3 separate regions of the Homo sapiens genome follow, and all the other regions are linked to region 1. The links come from fine-mapping of genetic effects on gene expression. A gene starts in region 1. Each other region holds a variant in brackets. All regions are shown on one strand. Distances are from middle to middle. Region 1 holds the start of LINC00865 (long intergenic non-protein coding RNA 865). Region 2 has its middle 19 kb from the start of LINC00865. Region 3 overlaps LOC105378424 (a long non-coding RNA gene).

Region 1 (11,238 bases):
AATCCAGAAAATTATCATTTCTTTTTGTTTTGGCTGGAAGGCTTAGCTTTTAACATTTTGACAACAATTATAGAGAAAGAGCAATATTGCTTATTTAGCATCCTGCTGAATTTCCTTATTGTAGAATTTTCATCTAGAGTTTGGGTAACTCTAAAATGCTTCAGAGGTATTAACAACATTGCAGTCTTCACCAAGTGAGGAAAACCTACAAAAAATGTGTGTGTAGGTGCAATGAAAAATTTTCAAGTCAATGTAAATGTGTTATAAGAGTGGAGAACCTGGAATTTTTAGAAGTAACTCAGCCCTAATACTTTCTGTCAAAATATAGAAGGCCACAGCTTTAGAAAATAAATACAAAACCTCAAACTTCTGTCCCTTTGAAGAATAAGAAAATATGAAACATAAAAATAAAATATCTGGAAAATACAGAGACATTTTGTTTTGCATCTTCATTTTCTTATTATTGACAAATTGAAAATTCCTGTTTTGTATTAAGCACAATGTTTGCTGTCATAAAACGTTTAAGCAGTGTGATCTGGGTTTATTTTTTGGAGTTGCCATCAGGGAGGACAGATTGCTTTTTTAAAAGTTACATTTCATTTTTTAAACCTTGAGCTAAAAAGCCTTTGGAGAATTGGGGGCACTGTCAGTGAGGTGCCTAACTCCTAGGGAATAGAAATAGAATGGCCTGGATGAAATATTTTTGTAAACTTCTCAAAATTCAAAAGTGTAACTATATGAATTTACTTTCTATTTAGTCCAGTGGATAAAAAGTGAAAGTTTGCCTTAAGGTTCAGAGTCTTGTGCTAAATTTGTTCAAAATTTCATGTGAAATAGTTACCAAATGGATACTTCCACCACACTTATCTACTTATGGTATCTGGTATTAAAAATAAAACCAAAGGAAGAAAAAGGCTGCTAATAATGGCAATGAAAACAGCTCATTCATTGGCTTTATTCCTTAGGCAAGGATTTCCAGAGCACCTTGATAGGTCTTAAGGATGTCAGATAGTGGGCATAGAGTGATGAGGAAGACAGGCACCATCCTTACCCTCATGGAGACTCTAGTTTAGTAGGAGAGGCAGGCCAAATGTGCAAAGGCCTGCAGGAGGCAGGAAAGGGACCTAAATTTGTGAAATGGTGTGAATTGATGGGAAGTGTGACAAACCAAAAAGAGAATGCACTGATTAAAGCTTTTCAAAAGAAATACTGTGTGGACCATGGAATGCATCTGTAAGCAGATTAGTCCTACATACCATTTGAAACCTCTACATTAAAGGAATAATTGCACAAATAACCATGCTAACCATGCAGGAAATAAGGACTATAAGGCATAATCCAAGATGTCATGAGAAAGTATAGTCATGATTCCTGACTATAATTCCTGAGGAAGTTGCATTTTACCAGAGACCCGAAAGATTTGATTAGTAGACTTAGTAGGCAGTAGGGACTGGAGACAGAAGATTTAAGGTGAATCTAACAGTAGAGGGCACAGGATATCTGAAACTTCCATGTGATTGGAGCCCAGTGAGTGAGGGGGGGAAGCAGCGAGGGATGAGCTGAAGTTTTAGGAGCCAGACAATGTAAGATTGAATAGGCTATGTTGAGAATTTAAACTTACTCTAAAACTAATGGGAATTTCTTAAAGGATTGTAAAAAAAAGGGAGGATTCGATCATATATATATATATATATATATATACACACATATATATGTATATATACATATATATGTATATATACGTATATATACATATATATATTACAAGCATGTTCTTATTGAGGTGTGGAGAATTCAGCAGAGGAAGAGGTCAAGGTGGGATGTGGATAGAACAGTTAGGAAGCTGTTGCAGCAGTTCAGGTGAAATGGACTGGGCTTTGGTCAGGTGGTTGGCCATTGAAATACAGAGACATTTTATCATTTGGGATTTGGAGTAGCTGTAACTGAAACTCCAAATTACAGTGGCTTGGACAGATATTTATTCCTCTCTCGCATAACTGAAATCTGTACATAGCCTAGAATTCAATTGGTGGCTCCACCATTCTTAGGGACCAGATTCCTTCCATTTTGTCAATACGTGACTTCAACCTCCTCATTGACGGTGGCTGCTTTAATTCCAGTCATGTTGTTTTCATCCCAGACAACGTGAATGATGAAGGGAGGAAAAAAGATACATCCCTTTCCTGTAAGAGAATTTCTAGAAATTATACGTGATGCTTGCAGTTACAGCTCATTGGAAAGCACTCAGTAGCATGGCCCCATGTGATTACAATGGAAGATAGACAATAAAATGTTTACTCTAGGTTACTACAGGTCTAGTTGAAAATCAGGACGTCTATGACTAAGGTTGAAAGGAACAGAAAACGTTGATAAATAGCCAACATCTGTAATACAAGTAGATAAAGTTGAGACTTGTTTTGGAAATAAAGTTAGCAGGATTTGATAACTGATTTAATGGGGGTTGGGTGAGGACAAGAGAAGGAACAAATCTCATTTCTACTTTTCTGAGACAATCAATGGTAGTACCTTTTTGGAAATGAAAAAAATGAAAAAAGGGGCAGGTTTAGGGCAAAGAACAAAAATTAATTAGCTGTTGGGAGCTTCCTCAAAATTATAGAGGGAGCAATTTATCAATTTTTTGTTGTTGTTCCATTCTAGAGATGTTTTATGCCCATATAGGAATGTGGGTGTGCATACCTGATATGTGTGTATACACACATATTTTATTTTTACAAAAATGGTAGGGTTTAATTATACCATTATATACCTAAAATCCTTTACTTGATATATATTGGGGATCTTTCCATATAATTGCATGAAGAAGTGCCTTACTATTTTTAATCATCACAGAGTATTTCATTGTATGGCTTTGCCATAATTTATTTAACCAGTTCTTATCTGTACATTTGTTTCTGTTTTTTTCAGATTATAAAAAATGCTGCAATGAATGTCTACACTTTAAAGTAAAATTGTTGGGTTTAGGGGCACATTATTGAAAATTTTGGCTTGCGTATTTTTTTCATAGAGGTGTCAGCAATTTCTACTCCCACTGGCAATATATCGGGATGCCTGTTTTCCTTTACTCTTGTCAACTCAATGTGTCAAGCTTTCTGATGGTTAAAATAATATTAGATTTTTGTTTTAATTTGCTTTTTCTTAGCAGAAATGAAATAAAACACTTCACATGTTTAAAATGTTTTATTTCTTTTTCTAAACATGTCCTCATTTTTGCTATTGGATTCTTATTTTCTTATTTAATTGAAGGAACTGGTTATACGTTAGATTATCTGTTTTGCAAATATTTTCCTGTTTATCCTTTTTTGTCCTCATAGTAAATTTCTTTCTATAAATTCAACTTATTTACTATGAATAGCTTCTTGTTATTAAGTAGGTTTAATACAGTTACCACGTTGGTTTGCATGCTTTAAACTTTATTCTCCTCTGTAAAATACATCATTTTACAGAAATGAGCTCATACTGAATATATCTTTTAGGTTTCTGCTTTTATTCTCACTTAATAATAAAAATCTTTCTAAGTCATTCATTGTTTTAACAAATTATTTTTAATTGTTTCATACATTATTCTGTCATTTGGAGTTAACAATAATTTACTCAAGCAACCCTCCCGCTGTTGCATAATTAGGTTATTTTCATTTAAAAAAAAACCGATATAAGCTACAGCCATGGTAGTTTCACTATGATAAAGTCCTCAAAGTAAAATTTGGAGGTCATTGTGCAAAAGTACTCTCCTTGTGCTTCAATGCTTCCCGCAGCTAGACCAAGCTCCGCGGGCAGGAGCTGGAGTCCAAGCTAGGGGAAAGAAGGACCTTCCGGGCCCATAAGGCGGGAGGCAAGGAGGGCCCCTGGGCAGCCCCGCGCTTGCGCGCCAATCACGGCCGTTATGGATTTCGATACGTTACCAAACGGTCTCCTACAAAGGCAGAAACCGTTTAAATATTTCAGAAGGATTGATTTTCATTTTGCAAATATAATACTGGTTCATTTTCTTTCTCTTCCTCCATCCATTCTACTATTGAACATAAAACGTGTCAATAGTATTGTAGTTCAGCATGTATCTCAGGATATTAAAAGGGCAGTGTGACTCAGCTAGAAAAGGATGAACTTTCCCCAAAGATAAAGTGACCTATGCGGTAAGTCCTACGGGACTTCATATCCTCATTGGAGAGAGGTTTAGGGTGTTTCTAGTTGTAGCAGGGTTAGTTGCACCTTAGGTTGAAGCAAGATTTTGCTACTGGAAATTAAATATGGTAAAAGGAGGTGCTCTCGGCCGCCAATTTGACAAGGGATGGACCGTGCTGGTTTTGTATCAACTGGCCTAAGCTAGAACTTCATTTCCATTATGTCTCCATATCAGGTTTGGCCAAAAGATATATCTATGCCAGATTTGGGAAGCAGAAGTGAAAGAGTAACCGTTACTCTGTGTAGCTGGTGCGGAAGGAGAGAAGTGTAGATGTACTGCTTGTGGGCTCTAGCTTGTCCTCGCCTGCCTCTGTCTTGACTCCAGCTGGTGTCCTTTTCTGCCTGCCTTGCTGACCAACAGCAGCCCCAAACCCACAGTCAATGCAGAGGCAACAGCCTTCCATGCACTTCTTCGCCAGCTCCTGTTGTGGTCTCACTCTTGCAACTGGATGTTCCCAGTTCTCTATATGTAACCTGTGACTTTTCCTTCACTTGACTACTTCAGGAGAGGTGAATAGAGACTTTTCTCCAATTCTCCACCTTCCAACGGTGGCCTTACTTCCCCGTCTCCTCCCACTATTGTGCAAGGTCTAATTTTTTAATCCTTAGACTATAAACTCTGTGGAGGTAGCCACCTGTTTAGTTTACAGCTATAGTCCCAGCGCCTGGCACCCAGAAGACACTCATTAAATGTTTGAAGAATTATTAAAGCCCCCAATAATTGATAGCCCTTATTATTTATCCAGTACTTAGATTCTCAAATATGAAACACGAACAACTTGGTTTCATTATCTGGCTTAAAAAGCTTATCAGGGAAAAAGTTTTTAAAAATATATTTTGGGCAGCATTTGAGTCATTTCCCGCACCCCCAAACCTATGTCAGTCGATAGGAAGTCTGAAATTGCCTTGAGTTCTGTAGGCAGGACACTTCAGTGGGCTGAAAAGTGTTGGGCTTATACCTCACTGCTCACTGCTCATCATAACTCTTCCCCTCTTTGCTTGGATTTTTTTTCTTAAATATGCCATGGTCAGCAAAATTTTTATTTCCTTTCTTCTGTAAAGTGACTTCTTTAAAAACCCTAATTATCTTATACTACCTAAGTTTTAAATTGTCTGAGAGAAATATTTTCTTTTTGTTTTACCTAAGAGTGTCTTTTCAATTTTCTTTTATTATCTTTTCAAAACCATATCACTCAACCATCTACAGCTTAGTGTGCAGCATTGTGGTATGAATATGTGGCTGGAAAGTCAGGGATTTAAAAGAACTATGAAATATATATTTTGACTTTTGGGGATAATTTTCTGGGAACAGATTTTTAAATACCTCAAGCCTTTTTTATATACTAATATCCTACCAAATATATGCCATTTTAGCAGCTCATAATAGTTATTAATAAAATATTATGGTTGTTATTCTATTGTTTAACTCTTCCCCCATGTCTTCTCATGAAAAGCTCATATACATAATGTATATTGTATTCTTCCATACTGACTATAACATATTGACTGTTCCTGACCCTTCTGTTTAACCAGTTTTAGCATTTTTCACTTTCCTCATTTTCAGTCATTCTTCTCTTTTTGAAGTATTCCCTGTTCACTTCCATCAGGTTGGAATTTCACTTTGGCCTCACAGTCTACTCAATCTCTTTAATGTCCCATGAGCACATCTTTCATGGCATCTAAGTAGGCTACCATGTAATTCAATCATTTTTCACACTTCTTAAATGTTAAAAAAATTAATACATAAACACTTAGAAAAGTAGAAAATTCTTCATTTAATTATATTAACTCTCAACAATCCTTAAAGTTCTTTAATTGTAAATTTCATTAAGGTAACTTAGGTTCTTGTTCATAAAGTCAAAAAGTTGTATGTCATGTAATGCAAATTACACCATTATCCACTCTTCTCCATCTCTGATTCTCACTCTCCAAAGGCAACAACTTTCATCTCTTTTAACTGTTTTTTTTTCTATTGTTTACTGTCACAAGCCTATAATATACCTCTCATACTATTTATTTTTCAGTTTGGTTCTTATCTATTGCCTTTCTTCTACAAAAGATGAGGAGTTGGCTGTCTTACAACTGGGCATGTAGCTTCTTCTTTCATTTCTTAATCTTGCAATATCATATTTTTAAAAATCTTATCAGTGTTTAGTGTTTATTTTGACAATGTAAATATTATTCACAGATGAACTTGTAGTGTATTAGGTTTACTTCTTTTTTGTAGACCTTTGCTTTTGTTTTTCCTTGACTATGCATTGCCTTGATTTTTGTTTAGTTAGTTTTCTAAGTAGTTATTATCAGTTCATTCTGCCAAATTCTGACAAGTCTTAAGTGCCTTTTGATACATTCAAATGAAACTATCCAGTTTCTTTTATTTTCCTTTTTTTCCTGGAGGCCACGGTCCTAGGTACATTGCCTTCATGAGCTCCTTCCTCCATAAAAAATAAAAATTATTTTACAGCCACGTTGGTATAAAGGTAAATATGATCAGGGTGGATTTATTATCATATAGTCACTGTTATTATATTAATTTTATCTCCTAATTTTAAAGGAAATTAAAATGACGACATTTTTGTAAATTCCTAACAGCGTCATGGGCCCTCAAGCACTATGCCTACTCAGCCTAATGGATGAGTCGGCCCTACGGAAGGCATTCTTTGCTTCTGAACCCCTCTTTTCTCCTGTTCCAATCTGGACTACTTATTCTGTAGGCCCTGAGATGTTTTCTTACTGTTATCCTGACAATTCAATTTTTTTCTCTCATATATTGGATCCCCTATTTCTGTGAATATGTGGCTGGTTTTCTTTCTGGTAGTACGCCTTCATTTTGATAGAGTGCATCTTTCAGAAGGCTCTGCTATAGCATGTCTGGAGGTAAATATGAGGCCTTGCATGTGAGATAAATGTTTCAATCTACTCTCATAATTGGTTGTATAGAGGAAGAGTAATCATTTTCTTCAACAGTAAGTTCTTAGTTGAAATGAACTTCTGTAATACAAGACAGATCAACAAGAGAAAAACAGAAGTGTATTAACATGTGTATTTCATACATACACCAGAGACACCCAGGGAATGAGTAGTTCTCAGAATTGGCTTTGAATTCTGGCTGATATAGCATCTTCAATAATGAACAGCAAATTTCTGGAGAGGTAAAGGAAAAGAACTTTAGGAGTGGCAACTTGTGGGAAGGCAAATGCATAGCAAATAAAGGCTAGCTAGTAATGTTTGTTAATGGAGATTTCCCTGGTATCATCTCCAGGTGGTAACAGTTTAAAGTTGTCTTATGTGGTTATCTTTTGGTCTCCCTGGTAGAAGGGAGGCAGAATACTTTTAGTTTTTGTATGTCCTGCTTTTAGGCAAATAGAGGGATGGCAGAGAGCTTCTCTGCATCTGCTTCTTCTTAATTACCTGCAGCTCAATAATCCTTTATATTTTGGAGTAGCACAACAGATAGTTTGGCTGGATATAGAATTCTGGGTTGAAAATTATTCACCTCCTAGATTTTTTAAAACTGCGTACATCATATATGTTCATTGTAAAGAATGAAAAACATATAGAAAGAAGAAAATAAACCAAGCCTGAATGCTGCACCCTAAATTAGCCATCAATATTCTGGGATCCTTATCGATAAGGGGGTCAAATAGTCTGTTTGGAATGTACCCTGTCACTTGCTCCCTGGTTTTCAGAACAGTCTTACTGCCTTTAGGGCGACTCTGGTCCTAAAGTCCAGAGCTTTGCTGAATTGACATCTCTGGAGAATAAACCAGTTTACTGCCAGTGGGGAGTGGATATGGACTGCTAAGTATTGAGACTTCCAGTTCCCCTATTTTTCATCTTACCTGTTCCACCATTGGGCACATGCCACCTCCAATTCAGGGCTTTTGAGGGATTTGCAGCAGAAACTACTCTGTTTATATTTCTGCCACTGCTGGCTTAGGTTTTCGCTTTCTCATCTTTGCTAAAAACTGCTAATAAAACATCTGCATTGTTGCTTCCAAAATTGTATTGCTGTTGTCTCTTTGCCACTTCTATTCATTCTGTGGTTTGACCTTTTAAATTAATATCTTTAGGATCCTTATAGTGAGCTATGGGAGGGAGTAAAGGTATATGTCCATGTTCATTTTCTGATGATTAGTGGGAAGTGTCTCATAACATTCTTGTATACATTTATTTTTTATTTTTTTGAGATGGAGTCTGACTGTCACCCAGGCTGGAGTGCAGTGGCCCAATCTCTGCTCACTGCAACCTCTGCCTCCCGGGTGCAGGCAATTCTCATCCCTCAGTCTCCTGAGTAGCTAGAATTACATGGACACCACCCTGCCCAGCTAATTTTTGTATCTTTAGTAGAGATGTGTTTCTCCATGTTGGCCAGGCTTGTCTCAAACTCCTGACCTCATATACCTTGACCTCCCAACATGCTGGGACTATAGGCTTGAGCCACCGTGTCTGGCCTTATATACATTTTTATACACTATTTTAGTGCTCTAGAATCCTTAGGGCAAAGTAACTATGTGTGTGGTATGTCTGTGTTAAGGATAAGATGGTATCAGCCCTAGAGTCTGATGCATAGTTGAGCCTTAATTTTATGCTATTACTATATTTATTTAATCAAAAACTTATCTTCCTTACTCCTTTTCCTCACATATAAGTAGCTTAAGTGTTAAAATATATTCTTTCTTCACACAATGACATTAAATCTATGTCAAAACAATTACCTTTCCAGGAACAAATAGAACCTGTCTTGCTTGGAACTTAAAAATAATTTTTCAAAATCCAGCAGAACATCTCTCCTTTTTGTAAAGCATGATTATGTCCTACCTACACACATTAGGAGAAACTATACCTTAAAAATATAGAAAATTTATGTTGGGGTGTGGCGATTCATGCCTGTAATCCCAGCACTTTGGGAGGCCTAGGCGGGCAGATCACTTGAAGCCAGGAGTTCAAGATCCACTGACTAACATCATGAAACCCCATCTCTACCAAAAATACAAAAATTAGCTGGGCGTGGTGGCACATGCCTGTAATCCTAGCTACTTGGGAGGCTGAGGCATGAGAATCACTTGAATCTGGGAGGTGGAGGTTGCAGTGAGCCAAGATCATGCCATTGTACTCTAGCCTGGGTGATAGAGCAAGACTGTATCTCAAAAAAAAAAAAAAGAAACAAACAAACAACAACAACAAAAAACAAAAAAACTGTATATATAGAAATTTAAAATATAAAAATTTATCATAGCTGTAGACATAAAAGTTATAAAAATAAATCTACAATCATTTCAGTTTTTATTAACTCATTTACTTCTGATACTAATTAAAAATCTCTCATATAAGTCCATTTATAAGTCCAAATAGAATAAACAAATGTTAAGTATCAATAATATTTAAATTTTTTTTTTATTCCAGACTCTGTTGGGTACAAGTGACACAGAAAGTCATCTCAAACTAGCTGAAACACAAAAGGTAATTTATTTGTTTCAATACCTGGAAATTCCAAGAGTTTTTTTTAGCTCTAGTTATAGCTGGATCAAGATGAGTGTCAAATGATATAATGATATTGTCAGTGTTTGAGTGTCTTATCTATCATGTGTCTATCCATACATATCTATACCTACATATATACATATATCACACACGTTTTATAAAAAATTTATCATGTCGACAATAATATTTAAACAAATACCCAAATAAATATTAATCATTGAGTTTTCTCAGAAGGCTAAATCACTTACAAACAAAATGGAACATTTTTATATTTTTATAATTTCCTTCTGGTACTGTGGATCACAGCCACAGAAGGAAATCAGTCTAGTAATATTATAGATAGGACATTCACTGGTCCCAATCTGATTTACATTTTCTTATGGACATTTGTGAATTTTTAGCTCTGCTTAGCATCTAAAATCCAGTGTATGTTTGGAATCTTTTTCAACATTATTAGCCATAGTGTGGAGGAGAGACTGCCTCACCCAATGGGAGATGAAAATGCCAAACTCTTGCTTGCCTAGACTCCCTTGGAGCTAGGACATGACCAAGTGAGGTACATTCCACTAATCAGATTCAGCCATGGAAGCAGGAACCAGTAACTCAAAGAAGCAGGGACTGAGAGCCTCCATTCAGACTGAATTCCTAGTGCAGCTGTGGCAGCAGAGCTAGAGGCAGTGTCACAGTGCAGTAGTGGAGGGGTTGGTGGTGCAGGCTGTAGAGTCTTTTGCTTGTTAGTGTTGGTAGGGATGTCAACATTAGGTGAGCTGTGTCATGTCTTGGTGAGCCTGTGTTTCATAGAACCTGGCTCTTCATACATGCTGGCAATGTAATCCACCCAATATCATTATCACAAACACCTTTCCCATTGAAATTAACCTGAGTTGGTTTCTGTTGCTTGCAGCTGATGAATGGATGACCTTCTCTTCCTCTATGTCATCTCCTTTAGTTATGTATTTATTAACTTAAATCTCATATTACTCTCTTTGGCCTCTGCTACCTGAATCTTCTGGTATCAGCTGAAGAGGGAGTCTGGGAGGCACAGAACTGGAAGTAAGGCCATACTGGGCCTGGGAGGCAGAGAGAGTCCTACTGGAGGGCCCTCAGAAAGTGAATTCAGCAGGCACCAGCCTCCAGCCACAGGGTCCTATGCCCACACTTGCTTCCACAAGCCTGGTCCAGGCCACCATCATGTCGCCTGGACCATGGCCGTATTTCCTAGGGTCTGCCTACTCCTGTCCTTGTCCCTGTAAACACTTTATCAAACACAGGGATATTGTTAAAACATAATCAGATCATGTCAATTCTCTGTGAAAACCTCATTCTCTCAGAGTAAAAGTCCTTATAGAAGCCTAAAGGCCATACATGGTACCCGCTTCCTCCGAAAAATCGCATTCTCTTTATTACGCCTTCGATCCCTAGGAGAACCTAAGTTCAAGAGGAGATGCTGGGCAGGGAGGGGCCAGCCACTTGCTAGGGTGCCCCAGCCCCTGTCTGCTTCAAGAGCCAAGTCATTTTCTCCTGGACCCCTCTGAGCTGAAGACAGGAAGAGCC
Region 2 (11,238 bases), 21 kb before region 1:
AAAAGAAAGTAATCTGTAATCCTACCTCACCAGGGGGGCAGAAGAGAAGTAAAACATTTAAGGTATATCCTCTTGAAACTTTTCCTATACCTGAATATGTATTTTTTCCTTCAACAAAAATAGAAGCAAATGTACATACCAGTTTGCAGCTTACATTTTAATTTAACAATAAATAGTGATTATTTTTCCATTTTATTACATGTATTCCCACATAGTCTTTAATAACTATGTACTCTTCCATCATAGAGATGTACTATATAGTTTATTTACCCCGCCACATTTTTTGGTCATCTAGGTTTCCCAGGTTTACCCTATTAAAAACAACCCTCTACTGAACAGCATTAGAGCCACAGATTAACACACATCAGTGCTTTTCCCCTTAGAGTTAATTAATAGAGAAAATCTTTACATTTATTTATGAACCCACTTTTATAGCCAGGCTTTACTCTGTGTTTTGTTCAATGTTTCTCATGCTAAAACTAATCAATTCCTTGTTCTCTCCCTGTTAACCATCTAAGACCTGCTTTATCTCCATGGCAGTCCCGCTTTTCTCACTTTTAAACCACAGCTGTGCTAGCAGATTTTACTTGACGAATATGACTCATTTTTTCAATTCTATACGTGAAAGGAAAGAAGAGCTATTCATTCCTTTCTCTTTCCTATGTTAGTGTTACTTCAGTCTCTCTCTTAAGAGCAGAAGAGGATGAAACTAACCTCAGCATCACAGCACTTCATGGAGGTTGAAACCTCTGCAATCACTATATAACTGACTATACACCCACACACACACACCCCCCACAGAGACTCTCACACAGTCACATACAGAACTAAAGGAAGGAGAAAAGACTGAGAAAATGTCTGTGTGATGATTGTTACTATTTACATGGCCCAATCCCACTCACACTCACACCTCAGCTCCACTCACACCCCAGCTCCAAGTTGCCAATGATGCTTCCATATGGAGTTGAGTCTAGATCAAGCCCTATGAGGAGGCTAGTTCCTGTCTCTGGCTGTGAGAAGAAAGCTGGGCACTGAGCAGTGTCACTTCAGGAAGTCTCAAGGCTCATTTTATGTTATGATGTAAAAATTCTTTAGTGGAGGAAGAAGAAACTGAATTTTCAGAATGGACTCTGTGAAACCCTAGGATTCTACCTCATTATCTCAGGGGTTATTCTTTGTGGAGAGCAGCAGGCAATGATGCCTGAGGGAAATTGAGCTGGATCATCTTTTCTGCGGGCTAGAAAAGAAGGTATGAAGAGTGCCAGGAGGAAGCGAGGGGCCTTCTGAGGTGAGCACAGGCCTCTAGTCTCTCTCTCCTTTTCCCTTTTCTGAGGGGATCAGGGGACCTGGACCTGGCAGGGGCCCAAGGGAATCTGCCACGAGGCTGTGCATGAATTTGGAGGTTTGGATTGATTCTGCCTGGCACCTGGAACCTTGTGAGTACTGAGCATGGAGGACTGCAGAGGGGTGCACTTGAGAAGATGCAAGAGGGAGAAAAGGGAACAACTGCATCTCCACTGCAGCCCATAGTGGAGACACATGAGCTTGTGTCAGTCCCAGAATGAGCTGTAAAGTGAGTAGAGAGTGGGGACTGTCTTGTCCCGTTACCACTGCCAGAGGCCTGTGCTGTCCGTGGGGCAAGCCGGGATACTCTGACTTTGATAGGGGAGGAAACAGGGCTGCCTCTGGAGGTCATCCATGACAGCTCGTTGAGTGAGAGACAATTAGCAGAGGAACAAACAAGAATCTGATGAATAATGCTCTATCACCTCCGTGCCTCCAGATATTTGGATTTTTCTCCACAACACTATAGACTCGTGGCACTGTAGTGAAGTATAAGGTTTCCTGGACGTTTATAAACAAATGGTTAGGGCTCAGGTGGGTCAAGTGGAAAACTTGGGACTGCATGGTGACTCATAACAAGGATGACAATACTGAAGAAAATGACATTTAAACTTGAAATGATAGAAGGAGAATTACTAGGCTGGGCAGAGTTTTCCACATTGGCTTATATTTAGTTTTGTCATTGCTAAGAATGAACGAGTACTTGTAAAAGAGAAATCAAAATATTTATAAAAATAAAGTGAATGTTATGCTTGCATGTAGACTATTTATGATTATCCAAGTCACATCTGCTATTCTATTTTTTGGATGATAAATGGTGCCCAAAAAAGGAGAGTGATTTCTTTTATAGAAGGGTGGTTTATTCAAGGATTTAGTGTTACTGAGCAGCAGAGTTGTTTCTGGAACTTATTTACTCATTCACTCCATCAGTGCCTTCAGTGGGCAGCCACCAGGAACACACCTGAAGCCAAACAGAATTGGATTTATTGACTTACAGTGAGGGAGAATGAACACCATGGAGAAACACGGCAGAGGAAAGAAATGCTGTAGAGTGGACTTAACAGGTATTGGGCTTGTGAGTGATTTGAGGCAAGTTCAAGGGAGTGGGGCTTTGCTCTTAATTGGATGCTATCTGAAATAAGACATTGCTGTCAAAGACAGCAGATGATGTAGCTCAGGAAACAACTTACAGATCAAATATACTTTGAGGCATCTTCTGCTAACACAAGCAATCAGCTTGAATCAAATACACCCAAGTTAAAAAGAACAGCAGATAATTTACAGCAGATGTAATTTGATGTCATGGTTTCTCCTCATTTTGGGAGGAGAGGCTGGGATGCATTTTAGAAATTTGAACAATGTTTAAATTAAGAATTAGGTTTGACATCTAGCCTCCAACCTTAATATGTCATCACAGAGAGTAAACTATCCAAAACCAAGAGATCCAAACTACTTGTTTTTCCTCTATTTTGCCAATGGAGATGTTTTCTGCCTTTCTTCTCCATGGCCCTTAAAATATAAAAACCTGACAATCTCTGCTCCCTATCAGATTATAGAGTCCAGGACCTAGCCTGCACTGAAAAGAGACTGTTGAAATAAAGGGCTTGTACTTACATTTTATTTTTATTATAATCATGGTTATAATTAAGATTTAGGTTTTTTGGCCAGGCGCAGTGGCTGGTGCCTGCAATCCCAGCACTTTGGGAGGTCGAGGTGGGTGTATCGCTTGAGCCCAGGAGTTTGAGTCCAGCCTGGGCAACATAGTGAGACCTTGTCTTGACCAGACATTTTAAAAGTTAGCCAGACTTCGCGGTGTGCGCCCGTGGTTCCAGCTACTCAGGAGGCTGAGGTGGGAGGATCACCTAAACCTGAGGGGAAGGCTGCAGTGAGCCAGGATCACCCCATTGCACGCCAGCCTGGGTGACAGAGAGACATGTTCTCAAAAAAAAGGTTTATGTTTTCTACTGGGGATAGTAAGAGGGCACGCAGGGCTCCTCTTGGAAAGGCCATTTGCACTATACCTCAGCTCTATGGGGAAGAGGAATACGAAACATCGCAAGAGGACATGGAGACTTTTTCCAGGTTCCTTAGTTGGTATTTGAGTTTGGCTGGAGGAGAATGAGCTCCTTGGAGGCGATGTTAGTAAACCCTAAGTTTCAGAGTTGGAGGACCAAAAGCCTGCCATACAGAAAAACTAGGGAAAGCTTGTGGATGTGGTGTTTTGTGGGTTGGTATAGGCTTATTCCTGGGTAAGCTCTAGGACCCCAGTGAACAATATATAGCTTGAGAACCACAGGCAGACCAACCTACTTCTCCATACATCAGTCAGTTTATAAAGAAGCACCCTTTCTTCATAAGCCTTATTTATCAAAAGCAGGGGAATAATGGGTGGGGGACTCTTTAAGGAAATAACCTCAGGTGCCAAGGAAATATTTCAGAACCCCCTGGAAATGCCCAGCAGCCGAAATAGCTAGGAGGGCAGCTGGGACTGATGAGAGGAGCCTGGCATTGGCAAGAGGAAGATTGCCCATGAGAAAGGCAGTATTGAGTCCCTACCAGAGTCAGAAACCAGCAGGATAAAAATGAGCTGCTTCTGGGAGACAAAGTGGAGAGAGTGCCTGCATGCTGTCCAGCTGTCTGAGAATCCAGATGCTGCTCAGAGGAAGTGAGAGATCCTGAGAGTTCCTGTGACTGAGACTGGGTTTTAAAGATATACCCCCTTTCCTGCTTCATGTTAATTAAACTGAACATGAGCAAGGTGCTGGGACCCTGTGGGGAGACTCAGAGCATGCCCGGTGGAGGAGAAGCTGTTGCTTAGTCAGTGCAGACTGTTTCTAGGGGTTGGAGCTCTGCTCACATCTTTTAACTGTGTAGCCTTGAATGCTCTGCGCATTGAGTTCCTCATTTGTAAAAAGGAATTGTACATTCCTTCTTTCTAGGTTTGATTTGAGGATGAAGGGAGATTGGGCTTTTAAAATAGCTATGACAGGTCCTAACGCATAGATGGTTCTCAATGAATATTGGTTCATTTCTTCTTGCCTGAGCAGAAAGTGACACTTTCTCACTAGGCAACCATCAAGAATGGGGAATTGGACTCAACTTGGAGGGGAAGGGATTTCACACATAACCTTTTATAAAATACTTGCTGTAACACAGATTACAGGGAACAGAGCAGTTCTTTGCAGGAGGCCTACTATTTGGATCAGCTACAACCTTTCAAGCCACAGGACTGAAGACACATTATTCTTAATTATCTAAAGCCAGAAAAAGAAAGAGCTGATTGAGTTAATGGACAATGCTTAGGAATGTGGACACTGGTTTATTAATTATTCTCTACCTCCAAACAGCATTAGAGTCATGTATAACTTAGCATTTCTAAGTCATTGCAGTCAGTCAGTTAAATTGACAAGAGACTTTCAAATTTTATTTAATAGCCTTGTGACTGTTCTTGTTTCCATGGATCTGGGTGGAAGTTGGATGGATGAACACAAAGAAAGCTTAGAAATGATTGAGTAGAAGAAACCAGACCTCTAGGAAGGATTAACGATTTTTGTTTTTGGCCCTGATCCACTATTCTAACATCAAATACACAGCTGTTTATTGAAAGCCACGCTTCTTGCTAGGATGACACGCTCATTCTGGTCCACCTGGAGTTTTCCTGGAGTTGGCATTGAAAGTCCAAAGTTGCAGTAAATCTCTCTGTTTCAGACTCACGGGGATAGTTGGCTGCCCTACTGGAAAGGGCCAAGACAAATTGTAAAGGAAGACACAACTTTGATGAACTCTGGAGCTACAAGCCAGGGACAAGGCTGAGGGAAGCCCAGGTAAGGGTTTAGATAGCAGAAGTGGATCTCCAGAGTCACAAAGTAGAAATCTTCAATTATTGGAGAAATCCAGAAGATGGAGAGGTCACTTAGGCCACTTTCAATAACCAATAAGCAAAATATTCAAATGCCACAAAAACACATAAACAATCAAACAAAATTCATTCCCCATCCTAAGTTTAAATGTGGACTAGGATCAAAGATCTCCCTTGGGACTGGTGGCAGAGTAAATAAATTACCCTCTAAGGAACCAATCTGCAGAGCAGTATTCATCAAAATTACCTGGAGTGTTTATTAAATAATTTTCTGTAACTCACCCCAATCTACCAAACATGATTGCTAGAGGAGAGGACTGGGAATATGTCCTTTTAAAAGGCATCTTGGGTGACTCTAATGTGAAATTTTTTGCTCTAGGATGGTGATCCTCAAACACTTTTGATTATTGAGCCCTAGCAGTAAAAAATTTAAAAAAAGATCTTTAACATATGTATATGTACTTATCTATCTATCTATCTACCTATCTATCTATCTATCATCTATCTATCTATCTATCTATCTGTCTATCTATCTATCTATCTATATTACTCTTACTCACCCTTTAGGTTTTTCATTTAACACCTTTTAGACATGGTAAAATCTGCTTGGTTTATCTTACCGTACTTTGAATCTTTCTTTTCAGAATACACTCCAATCTGCTAGACTGGAGTTTCCTGAGGGCAAGGACTGTGTCTGTTTCATTTACCTTTGTATTCATAACAGCAAAATGCTTGGCCCAATAAAATATTGGTGTGAATTGAATTTAGGATTCCTCTTTAAATGACAGGTAGCTTGTTGTCTGGGGCAGTCCTGGTTAATGCTGGCATTGTTTGTCCAAACTGTTTCACGTTTCCATGGAAACAGAACCAGCAGTTCATGTAGGCACCACTACCTGTCAGTGCCAGGTACCCAAAGAGAGTTTAAAATCCCATTTCCTGGTCTCCAGTTGGTTTTCTCCTGCAGTGCCAGAACTTCTGCTGCAGGCGAAAGGACCCTCCATTGAAAGAGCAGCGGGAGCTGTCACTAAGAGGCTTTCAATCTAGACAAGTAAGAAGAAAAGGAGTGGAGCAGCTTCATGCATCAAACAATACCTCCCCTCAGGTGGCATGATCTTGGGGGAAGCCTCTTTGGACAGGGAGGGAGAGAACAAATCCACTTCATGCTCCCTGGGGCCTTATTGTTGAGTTCCAGCGATTGTTAACATCAATTATGCTGTAACTACTTAATAGCACCTTTGAAAACAGGGATTGCTGGCTTTGGAAAAACCCTGGAGCTTTCTTTATCTCCTGTTGGTGGAAAAGATCAACACTAAAATTAAGATTATAAGTCCAGGAGCAGTTTCATGGTTATATAACTGCTTCCAGGCATGAGAGGTAGATGCTGTACACATTTTAGGTAAATTGAAAAGCTGTGGGATGTTGCAGCTGAAGAGATCCTCAAGATTGTGACCCCCAGTCTGCATCATGGAGGCAGGTGTTGTGAAATGACCAAGCTAATTTCCTCATGTACAACTGTTAGGTCCTTTTTGGGAAATGTCTGTCGTCTCTAAGGATTAGAGGCTGGTGAAGGTTATGGGCCTTCTGCTCACAACTTTCTACTAGGTTATGATGGAAGTAAGTTTCAGGCCAAATTTTGCCATATATAGTGACATTTAGTAGCAAGCAGGCCCCCAGATGATCAGCTCTGATCTTTGAGGTTCTCTGACTATATTTGGTATGCAAGGTCCATGAGAGGAAAATGTGGCAATGTGTAGCTAATGTTATTTTTTTAAAAATTTTTTAATTTGTAACTTGCATAGTTATTTTTTGAAAAATAAAAATTATATGTATTTATTATGTGTAATATGATGTTTTCAAACATGTATATATTGTGGAATGGCTAAATCAGACTAATTAACATATGCATTACATCCACAGACGTCATTTTTAAATGGTGAGAATACTTAAATCTACTGTCTTAGCAATTTTCAAGAATATAATACATTGTTATTAACTATAGTCTCCATGTATATGATAGATCTCTTGAACTTATTCCTCCTAACTGCAATTTTGTACCCTTTGACCAATATATTCCCAATCAAACCCTCCCTTTCCTCAATAACCACCATTCTGTTCTCTCCTTCTTTTTTAGATTCCACATGTAAGTGAGATAATGTATTTATCTCTCTATTCCTAGCTTATTTCACTTAACATGATGTCCTCAGGTTCACCTATGTTGTTGCAAATGACTGGATTTCTTTCTTTTTAAAGGCTGAATTCCATTGTGTATATGTACCACGTTTTCTTTATCCATTTATTTATTAATGGGCATTTAGGTTGAATCCATATCTTGGCTATTATGAATAGTGCTGCAATGAACATGGGAGTACAGATATCTCTCTGATGTATTGATTTCATATTCCATGGATATATACCCAGTAGTGGGATTGCTGGATCATACTATTAGTACTATTTTTAATTGTTTGAGGAACGTTCATACTAGTTTCCATAATTGCTGTATCAATTTACATTCCCACCAACAGCACAAAGGGTTCCCTTTTCTCCACATCCTCACCAACGCTTGTTATCTTTTGTCTTATTGATATTAGCCATTTTAACAGGTGTGAGATCATATTTCATTGTGGTTTTTAATTTGTATTTTGCGATGATTAGTGATGTTGAGTACCTTTTCATACACCATTGGCCATTGGACATTTGTATGTCTTTGTTTAAGAAATGTTTATTCAGTTCCTTTACCTACTTTTAGCCAGTTGTTTCCTTGCTATTGAGTTCCTTATGTATTTTGTATATTAACCCCTTATCAGATATATGGTTTGCAATTTTTTCCCCCATTTTATAGGTTGTCTTTTCATGCTGTTGATTGTTTCCTTGGATGTGCAGAAGCATTTTACTTTGACGAAATTCCATTTGTCATTTTCACTTTTGTTGGCTGTTTGTTGGGGGTCATATCCAAAAAATCACTGCCAAAGCCAGTGTCTTAGAGGTGCCTATGTTTTCTTCCAGTAGTTTTACAATTTTAGGTCTTATGTTTGAGTCTGCAATCCATTTTGAGTTGATTTTTGTATATGGTGTGAGATAAGGGTCTAATTTTATTCTCTGCTTGTGGATATCTAGTTGTCCCAACGTCATTTATTGAAGAGACGGTCTTTTCCCCATTGTGTGTTCTTGGTACCTTTGTCAAAAATAAATTGTCTGTAAATGGGTGGATTCAGCTAACCTTATAGTTGGATAGAGACAGCAAGAATCCCCTGAATCAGTAGCTGTTCTGTCTGCAGTCAAGCATGGGGCACATTCCAAAAGATACAGACTAGTGCTCGTGCTAGATTTTTGGTTTTATCCTACTTGTGCAAAGAACAGAAAGAGCCTTTAAATACTTTAGCCAATGCACACATCTTGAAGACCATTTATCTCACTAGTGAAAAACCATTGCTGATGTAGGGTCTCAGAAAACGAAACCCCAAAATGAAGACCTCAGAAGCAGCT[C/G]TCTCTGACCTCCTGCCCACCTGTCTCTGGCCTCTCATTCTCCCCCGAGGCTAACCATAGAAACTAGAATCCCTCTTCCTTAAGGTGGGTCATAGAAACCAGAACTCTTTGCCCCCAAAGCCAGCCATAAAACCTAAAAATATTGCTCTAACTTCCTTCCTGTATTTTTGTATAAAAATTGGCATAGAGAAATCATCTGAACTACCTTGTTTGCCTGTGGGTCATAAGACCCCCATTCCAGAAAGGGTTCTACCCCACACCCAGAAGGGAGGAATGCTGTACAGAGAGGCCATGAAGCATGTAAACAGACAGGTCTTGCTGGGTTTCCCTGCTCAGTTTTCTAGCATTAGATTATACTCTCTTTGTTCAATCATAATTTCTACCTGCTGTCTGTACTTTGTCGAACCTAAGCATAAAAATGGAAAGTTACTTTGTATCTTTGGGTCTCCTTTCTGAAGGCTATTGTGTCACATAAAATTATAATCAAATAATGGTATGTCTTTCCTCTCATTAATCTCCATTCGTCAGTGATTTTCAGAGAAACTTCACAGGGCAAAGGGGAAGTTTTCTCTTGGCCCTTGCACTAACATTCATCATGTTCTTTATCCCAGGCTATGGGAGAGTGAGGCAGAAGAGCATGACAAGCCAAAGCTGTCTTGTTACGCAGATAAAAATCTCTCTTGTAATCTTGGAGCTGCCCTCAGATGGAATAGACAGAGTCACTGTTTCTCTGTCAGACCTTTAAAAGTGTCAGACCTTCTGAGTTAATCTTCACTAGACCTAGATAAGGGAGATGAAAGGGGCCTCAGAGAAAGCCTGTTTGCTTCTGCTGTTTGTTTCACTAATGTAGATTTTCTCTGCAGATCTTTGAACAGGACAGCTGTTCAAAGCTGTTCCTGTGGCCTGCAGCCTCTCTGACTAGCTATCTAAAAATATGCCAAAGAAGTATATTTTGAGGTAAAATAGTCTGATTTCCTTCGCTGGGATACATTGGGAGAACCCCTTTTTCAAAAATTTCCAGCCACGGACAAGCCACGGATGCTTGAAGTTCCACTGAAGGTAGCTCATTCTTCTGGTCTAGCTTTATTATCAAGCGCAGTCCACTTCAAAAACAAATCAGTGAATAAAATTGAGGCAAAGTGGGGAGAGAGCTCCACAAAGGTGGTCACCTCAAGGGAATTGGAAGGAGAAATTTTTGAAGGGAGTAACAGAAGATGGTTTTTAAACATTTTTGCAGTATTATCTTACCGAAAATTTAACTTCAACCTAGAGAAATCTATAACATCCGACTTTTGCCCACGCACTGGTGTATCCAGTCTACCTTTGTACCTATAGGCCTGTGAATGATGCTCAGCTCCTGGCGGTGGAGAGTCAGTGGCTTCTCCAAAGCTATTCTCAAGCTCCTTGAATCTGCTGATCAGGGTCACAGCACTTCTTGGGTAGGAGCCCATGCCTTGGCTTTTCTGATATGTGGAGGCAGTGAGTACTCCTCTGCAGGGCTGCTATGCTGCTCAGCCCCAGGGACCATGCCCTCTACAGTGCTCAAGGGCTTAAGAGGATGCTGTGCACTTAGAATACACCTGGACGCTGCCCCTCCCTTCCCTGGGAGCTGTTCCTGGCCAGGTTGACACCCTTCTCTTTTCTTTCAAAGGCTGCTTGAACTTTCCTCTCCTCTAGCCACTGGGTGTGTTTCCTGCATAGTCAGGAGTGTGTGGAGAGGCCTGTGCTGTCATAGCTTTCTCTCTCTGTCTCTTTTTTTTTTTGTCACCCAGGCTGGAGTGTAGTGGTGCAACTGTAGTTCACTATGCAGCCTTGAACTCCTGGCTCAAGCGATCCTCCCACCTCAGCCTCAGGAGTAGCTAGTGCACCACCATGCCCCACCATGCCTGGCTAATTTTTAAATTTTTCTGTAGAGAAGGGGTCTCCCTATGTTGCCCAGGCTGGTCTCAAACTCCTGGCCTCAGATGATCCTCCTGCCTTGGCCTCCTAAAAGTGCTAGGAGTATAGGCGTGAGCCACTGTGCCCAGCCCTGTCTTAGCTCTCTTGATCCCTGAAGTGGGGTTTCTTTCTGAACCCCAGGGACACCGTCCAAAGCTGTTTGAGGGGCCAGACTGGGCAAGAATCAAAAAAACAACACATTCTATTCAGGAAAACCCTCTCTGGAGCAGCTTGTTTTCCTCTACCTGGTAAACTTTTACTTATCCTTCATGACCCAGCTCAGGTGTTACCTTCCTCATGACATTTTTGACATTTCCACTGGCAGGGTTACAAGGCGAGGATCGTTCTGTTTTTTTCCGGGCATCCTTAGTGCACTGCTCGTTCTCTATAGAAGGAATAGTCACACTTATTGGTCACATCCTCTGTGTCAGGCATCTTCCCGGTGCTTACATGCATAATCTCATTTCATCAACTCCAGAATGCTCTGAGGTGATGTGATTTTTCAGGTGAGGACACAGCCTCAGGAAGGTCAGTTTGTCTGAGGTTACCCAGCCAGTAAGCAGTAGATCTAGGATTCAAACCCAAGCTAATCTGACTCCAGAAGACACAGACTG
Region 3 (7,084 bases), 10 kb before region 1:
ACTCCCCAATTCCTGCAGTCTTTCTCAACTCTACTCTTTCTTCTGCACCTCTCATCTAATTCACTAGGAAATGCTAAAGAATCTGATCACTTCCCATTACTTCTCTGCCGCTAAGCTGCAATTATCTCTCACACGGGTTAGGAGAAGTTAGTTTTCTAAATGTTCTCCCCTTAGCTCACCACTCAAAACTCCATAAAGTTTTCTGAACACAGTAGCAAGAGTGATCTTTTAAAATATAAGTCAGAGCATGTTGTTTCTCTGTTCAAAATCCAGTTACACTAAAAGTAAAAGCTAAGGGGCTTACAATGGCCCACTGACACCCATCCTCATTGTTCTCCTTACCTCCCTGACCTCATCTTCTAGTGTCCCCATCTCTTTCCCAGCTACACGGGCCTCTCGCTTCTTCCCCAGTGCCAGTAGTGCCCTGGCCGTGAGTCTTTACCCTCACCATATCCTTTGCATTTCTTTACACCCAACATGTATACCTGGCCCAATCTCCCACCTTCTTTGTAACTTTTCTAGAATGTTACTTTCTCAATAAGGCTTACTGGGACCACCCACTTAATTTTGCCAACTACCTTCACACCTGCATTAATCCGTTTTCATGCTGCTGATAAAGACATACTCAAGATTGTGTAATTTATAAAGAAAAAGAGGTTTGATGGACCCACAGTTCCACGTGGCTGGGGAGGCCTCACAATCATGGCAGAAGGTGAAAGGCACATCTTACATGGTGGCAGGGAAGAGAGAGAATATGTGCAGGGGAACTCCCCTTTATAAAACCATCAGATCTTGTAAGACTTATTCACTGTCACAAGAATAGCATGGGAAAGACGTGATCTTATGATTCAATTACCTCCCATAGGGTCCCTCAAATGACACGTGGGAATTATCAGAGCTACAATTCAAGATGAGATTTAGATGGGGACACAGCCAAACCATATCATTCTGCCCTGGCCCCTCCCAAATCTCATGTCCTCGCATTTCAAAACCAATTATGCCTTCCCAACAGTCCCCCAAAGTCTTAACACATTTCAGCATTAACTCAAAAGTCCAAAGTCTCATCTGAGACAAGGCAAGTCCCTTCCACTTATGAGCCTGTAACATCAACAGCAAGTTAGTTACTTCCTAGATACAAGGGGGTACAGGCATTGGGTAAATATAGCTGTTCCAAATGGGAGAAACTGGCCAAAATGAAGTGGTTACTGGCCCCATGCAGATCTGAAATACAGCAGGGCAGTCAAATCTTAAAGCTCCAAAATGATCTCCTTTGACTCCATGTCTCACATCCAGGTCATGCTGATGCAAGAGGTGGACTTCCATAGTCTTGGGCACCTCTGCCCTCGTGGCTTTGCAGGTTATAGCCTCCCTCCTGGCTGCTTTCACAGGCTGATGTTGTCTGCAACTTTTCCCTGGGCATGGTGCAAGCTGTTGATGGATCTACCATTCTTGGGTCTGAAGGACCGTGGCCCTCTTCTCACAGCTCCACTAGACAGTGCCCCACTGGGGATTCTGTGTGGGGGCTCCAACCCCACATTTCTTTTCTGCACTGCCCTAGCAAAGGTTCTCCGTGAGGGCCCCACCCTGCAGCAAACTTCTGCCTTGGCATCTAGGCATTTCCATACATCTTCTGAAATCAGGCGGAAGTTCCCAAACTTCAATTCTTGACTTCTGTGTGCCCACAGGCTCAACACCACATGGAAGCTGCCAAGGCTTGGGGCTTTCACCCTCTGAAGGCCATGGCCCCTTTTAGCCATGGCTAGAGCAGCTTGGATGCAGGGCACCAAGTCCCTAGGCTGCACACAGCAGGGGGTCCTCGGCCTGGCCCCCAAAACCATTTTTTCCTCCTAGGCCTCTGGACCTGTGATGGGAAGGGCTGCCACAAAGGTGTCTGACATGCCCTGGAGACATTTTCCCCATTGTCTTGGTGATTAACATTTGGCTCCTCGTTACTTATGCAAATTTCTGCAGCTGGCTTGAATTTCTCCTCAGAAAATTTTTTTTTTTTCTATCACATCATCAGGCTGCAACTTTTCCAAACTTTTATGCTCTGTGTTTCTTTTAAAACTGAATGCTTTAAATAGCACCCAAATCACCTCTTGAATTCTTTGCCACTTAGAAATTTCTTCCACCAGATACCCTAAATTATCTCTCTTAAATTCAAAGTTCCACAGATCTCTAGGGCAGGGGCAAAATTCCACCAGTCTCTTTGATAAAACATAGCAAGAGTTACCTTTACTCCAGTTCTCAACAAGTTCCTCACCTCCATCTGAGACCACCTCAGCCTAGATTTCATTGACTATATCATTATCAGCATTTTGGTCAAAGCCATTCAACAAGTCTCTAGGAAGTTCCAAACTTTCCCACATTTTCCTGTCTTCTTCTGAGCCCTCCAAACTGTTCCAACCTCTGCCTGTTACCCAGTTCCAAAGTCACTTCCACATTTTGGGGTATCTTTACAGCAGTACCCCACTACCTGGTACCAATTTACTGTATTAGTCTGTTCTCATGCTGCTAATAGAGACATACCACAGACTGGGTAATTTATAAAGGGAAGAGGCTTAATTCGCTCACAGTTCCATGTGGCTGGGGAGGCCTCAAAATCATGGCAGAAGGTGAAAGGCACATCTTACGTGGCGTCAGGGAAGAGAGAGAATTTGTGCAGGGGAACTCTTCTTTACATAATTATCAGATCTCGTGAGACTTATTCACTGTCATGAGAACAGCAAGGGAAAGACCTGACCCCATGATTCAATTACCTCCCACTGGGTCCCTCCCACAACATGTGGAAATTATGGAAGCTACAATTCAAGATGAGATTTGAGTGGGGACACTGCCAAGCCATATCAACACCCCACCTTTAATCTCCCTTGCTTTTTGTTTTTTGTTTTTTCCAGAACACCTAAATATTTTTAACATATATCATTTCATGGCTCCTATTTCAAGTGGGGTGGTTACTGGGGATAGTCATTCACTTATACATTCATTCATTCACACATTTTTTCAAATATGTAGTAGGTACCTACTAGTCAGGCTCTAGTGATATAGAGATGAATACATTGTGATTCCTATCATAAAAAATGTTTTATTCTGGTTGTTAAGAAGTATATAAACAGGCCATGGGTGGTGGCTCATTCCTGTAATCCCAGCACTTTGGGAGGCTAAGGCAGGAGGATAACTTGAGCCCAGGAGTTTGAGATCAGCCTCGGCAACATAGTGAGACTCCATCTCTACAAAAACTAATAAAAGAATCAGGCAGGCATGGTGGCCTATGCCTATAGTCCAGCTACTTGGGAGGCTGAGGTGGGAGGATCACTTAAGCCTAGGAGGTCAAGGCTGCAATGAGCCATGATCACGCCACTGTACTCCAGCCTGGCAGCCAGGGTGACAGATCCTGTCTCTCT[T/TA]AAAAAAAAAAAAAAAAGAAAAAGAAAAGTGTGTGGTCTGGGTGCGGTGGCTCATGCCTGTAATCCCAGCACTTTGGGAGGCTGAGGCAGGGGATCACATGAAGCCAGGAGTTCAAGACCACCTGGTCAATGTGGCAAAACCCCATCTCTAGTAAAAATACAAAAATTAGCCAGGTGTGGTGGTGCCTGCCTGTAGTCCCAGCTGCTTGGGAGGGTGAGGCAGGAGAATCACTTGAACCTGAGAGGTGGAGGTAGCAGTGAGCTGAGATCACATCACTGTACATCAGCCTGGGCGACAGAGTGAGACCTTGTTTAAAAAACAAACAAACAAACAAACAAACAAACAAAAAACTCTGAACAGGTAATTAGAGTCTGAGAAGTTTCCATTGTAGTGGAGATAGCAGAAAAGGCTCTGTACAAGAGTAGCTCTTGAGTATTCCTTAGTGAATACTGAAGAATTAACGAACACCAAATTTAGCACAGGTAGAAACTGAGCCAAAGAGTGTTTGTTTCCATTCATGTATATTAAAAGTCTTAAGTTCATGCAAAGCCTCCCAAAGTTTCTATAAAACAATGCTTGAAACCTCATTCCAAAAGAGGCAACATTCTTAAATGGACATATCTTCATGCTGAAGTCTTCAGAATTCTGAAACCTCATCTACTAAACTAAAAGCTGACATTATTTGAAATAAATACTCTTGTTGAAACTTGGGTTTGAAATATTCTGTTGCATCCCAGATCTGTTGATCATCTGTTGTGCCTGAATTTCTGTAGGGACAATATTTAACCTTTGTGTTAAGTGGTTCTTAAATGGCACTGTGAGGAGGGTAGTGTCACATCAGCACACTACAAAGTGCCTCTGTATCCCCGGTGACATTTTGTTCTTTGTGAGACCTCTGAAGTATTGCTTAATGGCAATTGTTGTCATCATAGGATGGGTAAAGGTATCTTGTCACAGATTTAGAACTGGCTTAGAGACAGGAAACAAAGTGAATCAGTAGAAATGCACATTTGTTTGGAAGGAAAAGGGTAAACACAGTGGGGTTCCTCAGGGATTGGTCTGGCTCAATCTTATTTAAAACATTTATAAATGATCCAGAGAAGGGCTCACACAGTGAAATCTCCAAAGTCTGCAGCTAATGCTGAACTACTCTGGATATGGAAAAGCTAAGTGGATGAGTACCAATGCAGGGAAAATTTAGGAGGCTGTTCTAATATGTAGGAAAGCAGTAAACATAGACTTTTATTTTTTTTTAGAAGAGTTTCACTCTGTCACCCAGGCTGGAGTGCAATGGCGCAGTCTTTACTCACTGCAACCTCCACCTCCCGGGTTCAAGTGATTCTGATTCCTCAGTCTCCCAAGTAGCTAGAAATACAGGCACGTGCCACCACTCCTGGCTAATTTTTGTATTTTTAGTAGAGACGGGGTTTTACCATGTTGGCCAGGCTGGTCTCGAACTCCTGACCTCAGGTGATCTGCTGCCTGGGCATCCCAAAGTGCTGGGATTACAGGCATGAGTCACTGTGCCTGGACGACATGGACCTCTTAAGTGTGGACATGTGCAGTGTAATGCATTTAGAACAGAAAAATTCAAAATATTTTAAAAGGATGATTCTAAAATATGACACAGGAAAAAGACTCCAGGGTGGAGCAAATCTGCCGTCACAGAGATTCGCCAATGTAATTGTTTTCTCCGTGAAGACAGAAAACCATGATAATCAGTATGACATTAGATTTTCCAAAACTTCAGCTCTTGGCCATGCATTCATTAAATTCATATAATTGAATTAAATTAAATTCATATAATTTATATGTTTATTAAATTAAACTCATATAATTAAAATTTATATAACTAAATAAATATATAATATAAGTAAGTTCATATAATTTATATGTTTGGAGAGCACCTACTATACAGGACAGCTTGGGCACTGTGATAGATACTGAAGAAGCCTCCAAGGGACATGACCTGAGAAGTAGGCAGTGAGAGTGATGGGAGGAGACAAGTGAGGGTCTTTGACATTTGGGAACCTAGCGGTCAGCCTGGAGTGAGAAGTGGGCAAGGATCTCAGACACTCCTGGGAGCAGCTGCCACCAGGAAACTTCTAGTGATTGTGTCCAGGGAAAGGTTGCCTTTTCTGTTTATTCTAAACCATTTTATCCAGCTAGAAGTGCCTATCATGCTATTGCGTGTTCTTAGTCTCTGTGCTTTATGCTTTACATATTTAATTTGGATAATGTTGCACTTTATCTGAGCCTTGTGTTTCTGGAAAGCAGCACCTGTTGAGAATTTTGCCCATTCTTTTGTATCCCGGGAAATGGTTAACTGCAAAAGAATACCTTGTCCTCGCATCTTGCCAAGGTAGGAACTGTCTCCATCCCTCCTCATGATTCAAGGATAGCTTCTTTGTCTACCCAACTCTATAAAAGCCCAGAACCCCTTCCCTTTCTTTCACAAAATGAACATTCTCCTCATTGCAACAGCCTAAATAAAATCATCTCCTTAATTGTCTGGTGAATTTTGTTTTTCACAATTTCAAGTAATCAATTATAATAGAATATTTATTTGATCACTTATACTTTGTGCTTTTGCCATCAGGCACTGTGCTGGGCTGCAGATGTAAAGCACTGAGCAAGGCAGACTCTCTCCCGGCCCCCCAGCTCACAGGCTAGTAGGAGCATCAGATGATCAAACAAGGAATTATGAAACAGTGGATTGACTGTTGTGATAGGTATACAGGTGAAGTAAATGAATTACTGATTGTAAAAAAAAAAAAGAATTTAACCCAGTATTGAAAAATGCAGTGTTTGAGTTGCCGTTAAATGTTTCTTTGACGTACATCTTGAAATACAGAAATTGCTTTTATTGAGGAACAATAGGACTCATTATATAAGGGCCTGACTCAGCTGTGGGGAGGCTGGGCCATGCTTCTGTTCTGGCTGCTCAGAGGACTCCCAGAATGGCTGGAAAATGGTCACATGGATTCCCTGGTTGAAGGTAGAAAAGGGAAGAATATGACTGACACATAAACCTGAGTTTATCTGAATTTTTGATGTTTGGCACAGGGCACTACGAACTTGCTAATGGTCTATTGAGAAGACAAAATTGCAAGCCAAGGCCTTGGAACAAGAAAGCATTAGAAATATTTTCTTCGATCCTATTTTGTCTGGTGGATTACCATGGCAATGGGCTACTGGGAAGAGACAGTTAGTTCTACTAACACATTATTTTGTATGTGAAAACTTTGCTCAGAATGGTATTTGGTCTAGGACTTTGCCTGACTTCCATAGTGTGGGGAACTTAGTGTTTGAATAACATTGCCTAACAGATTCTGGTGTTCAAGTGTTTTCTAAATTTTAAAACCTTACCTCAGGACCTTGAAATAGGCAATGATATGTGGAGATACAGATCCTGGCTGCTATGAGCACATAAAAATAATAAATATGTTTAAATAATAATGCTTTAAAATAATAACAAATATTTTTTATTATTAAGATGATGAATAAAAATGATTAATATAAAAGTGATCAATTGTAAAAATTCAGAGAAAATAAATAACAAGAATGAAATAGTATTTATTAGTATCTCCTCCCTAACAAGGTAGTTATTATTTTACCCTCATTTTACACATGAATCAGCTAATACTAAGGTTCACCACTCAGGTCCGTTTGACTGCAA

The links. PIP is the estimated chance that this variant, and not a neighbour inherited with it, causes the effect.
Region 2: its variant is fine-mapped to the expression of LINC00865 in whole blood (TOPMed, PIP 0.95).
Region 3: its variant is fine-mapped to the expression of LINC00865 in whole blood (INTERVAL, PIP above 0.99).

What each region holds. Positions count from the first base shown.
Region 1 is chr10:89,825,595-89,836,832 of GRCh38, forward strand. It overlaps LINC00865 (long intergenic non-protein coding RNA 865), which reads left to right and starts at 3,899. Exons shown (of 4, transcript NR_038382.1): 1 at 3,899-4,151; 2 at 4,376-4,710; 3 at 9,607-9,663. It overlaps LOC105378424 (a long non-coding RNA gene), which reads right to left and starts at 5,227. Exons shown (of 3, transcript XR_946196.3): 1 at 4,438-5,227.
Region 2 is chr10:89,805,042-89,816,279 of GRCh38, forward strand. No RefSeq gene overlaps it. Among named protein-coding and RNA genes, the nearest start is that of LINC00865, 19 kb to the right of the region's middle. The variant C/G (reference allele first, on the strand shown) is at 8,687.
Region 3 is chr10:89,817,374-89,824,457 of GRCh38, forward strand. LOC105378424 (a long non-coding RNA gene) reads right to left here. Exons shown (of 3, transcript XR_946196.3): 3 at 6,147-6,393. Among named protein-coding and RNA genes, the nearest start is that of LINC00865, 8.6 kb to the right of the region's middle. The variant T/TA (reference allele first, on the strand shown) is at 3,405.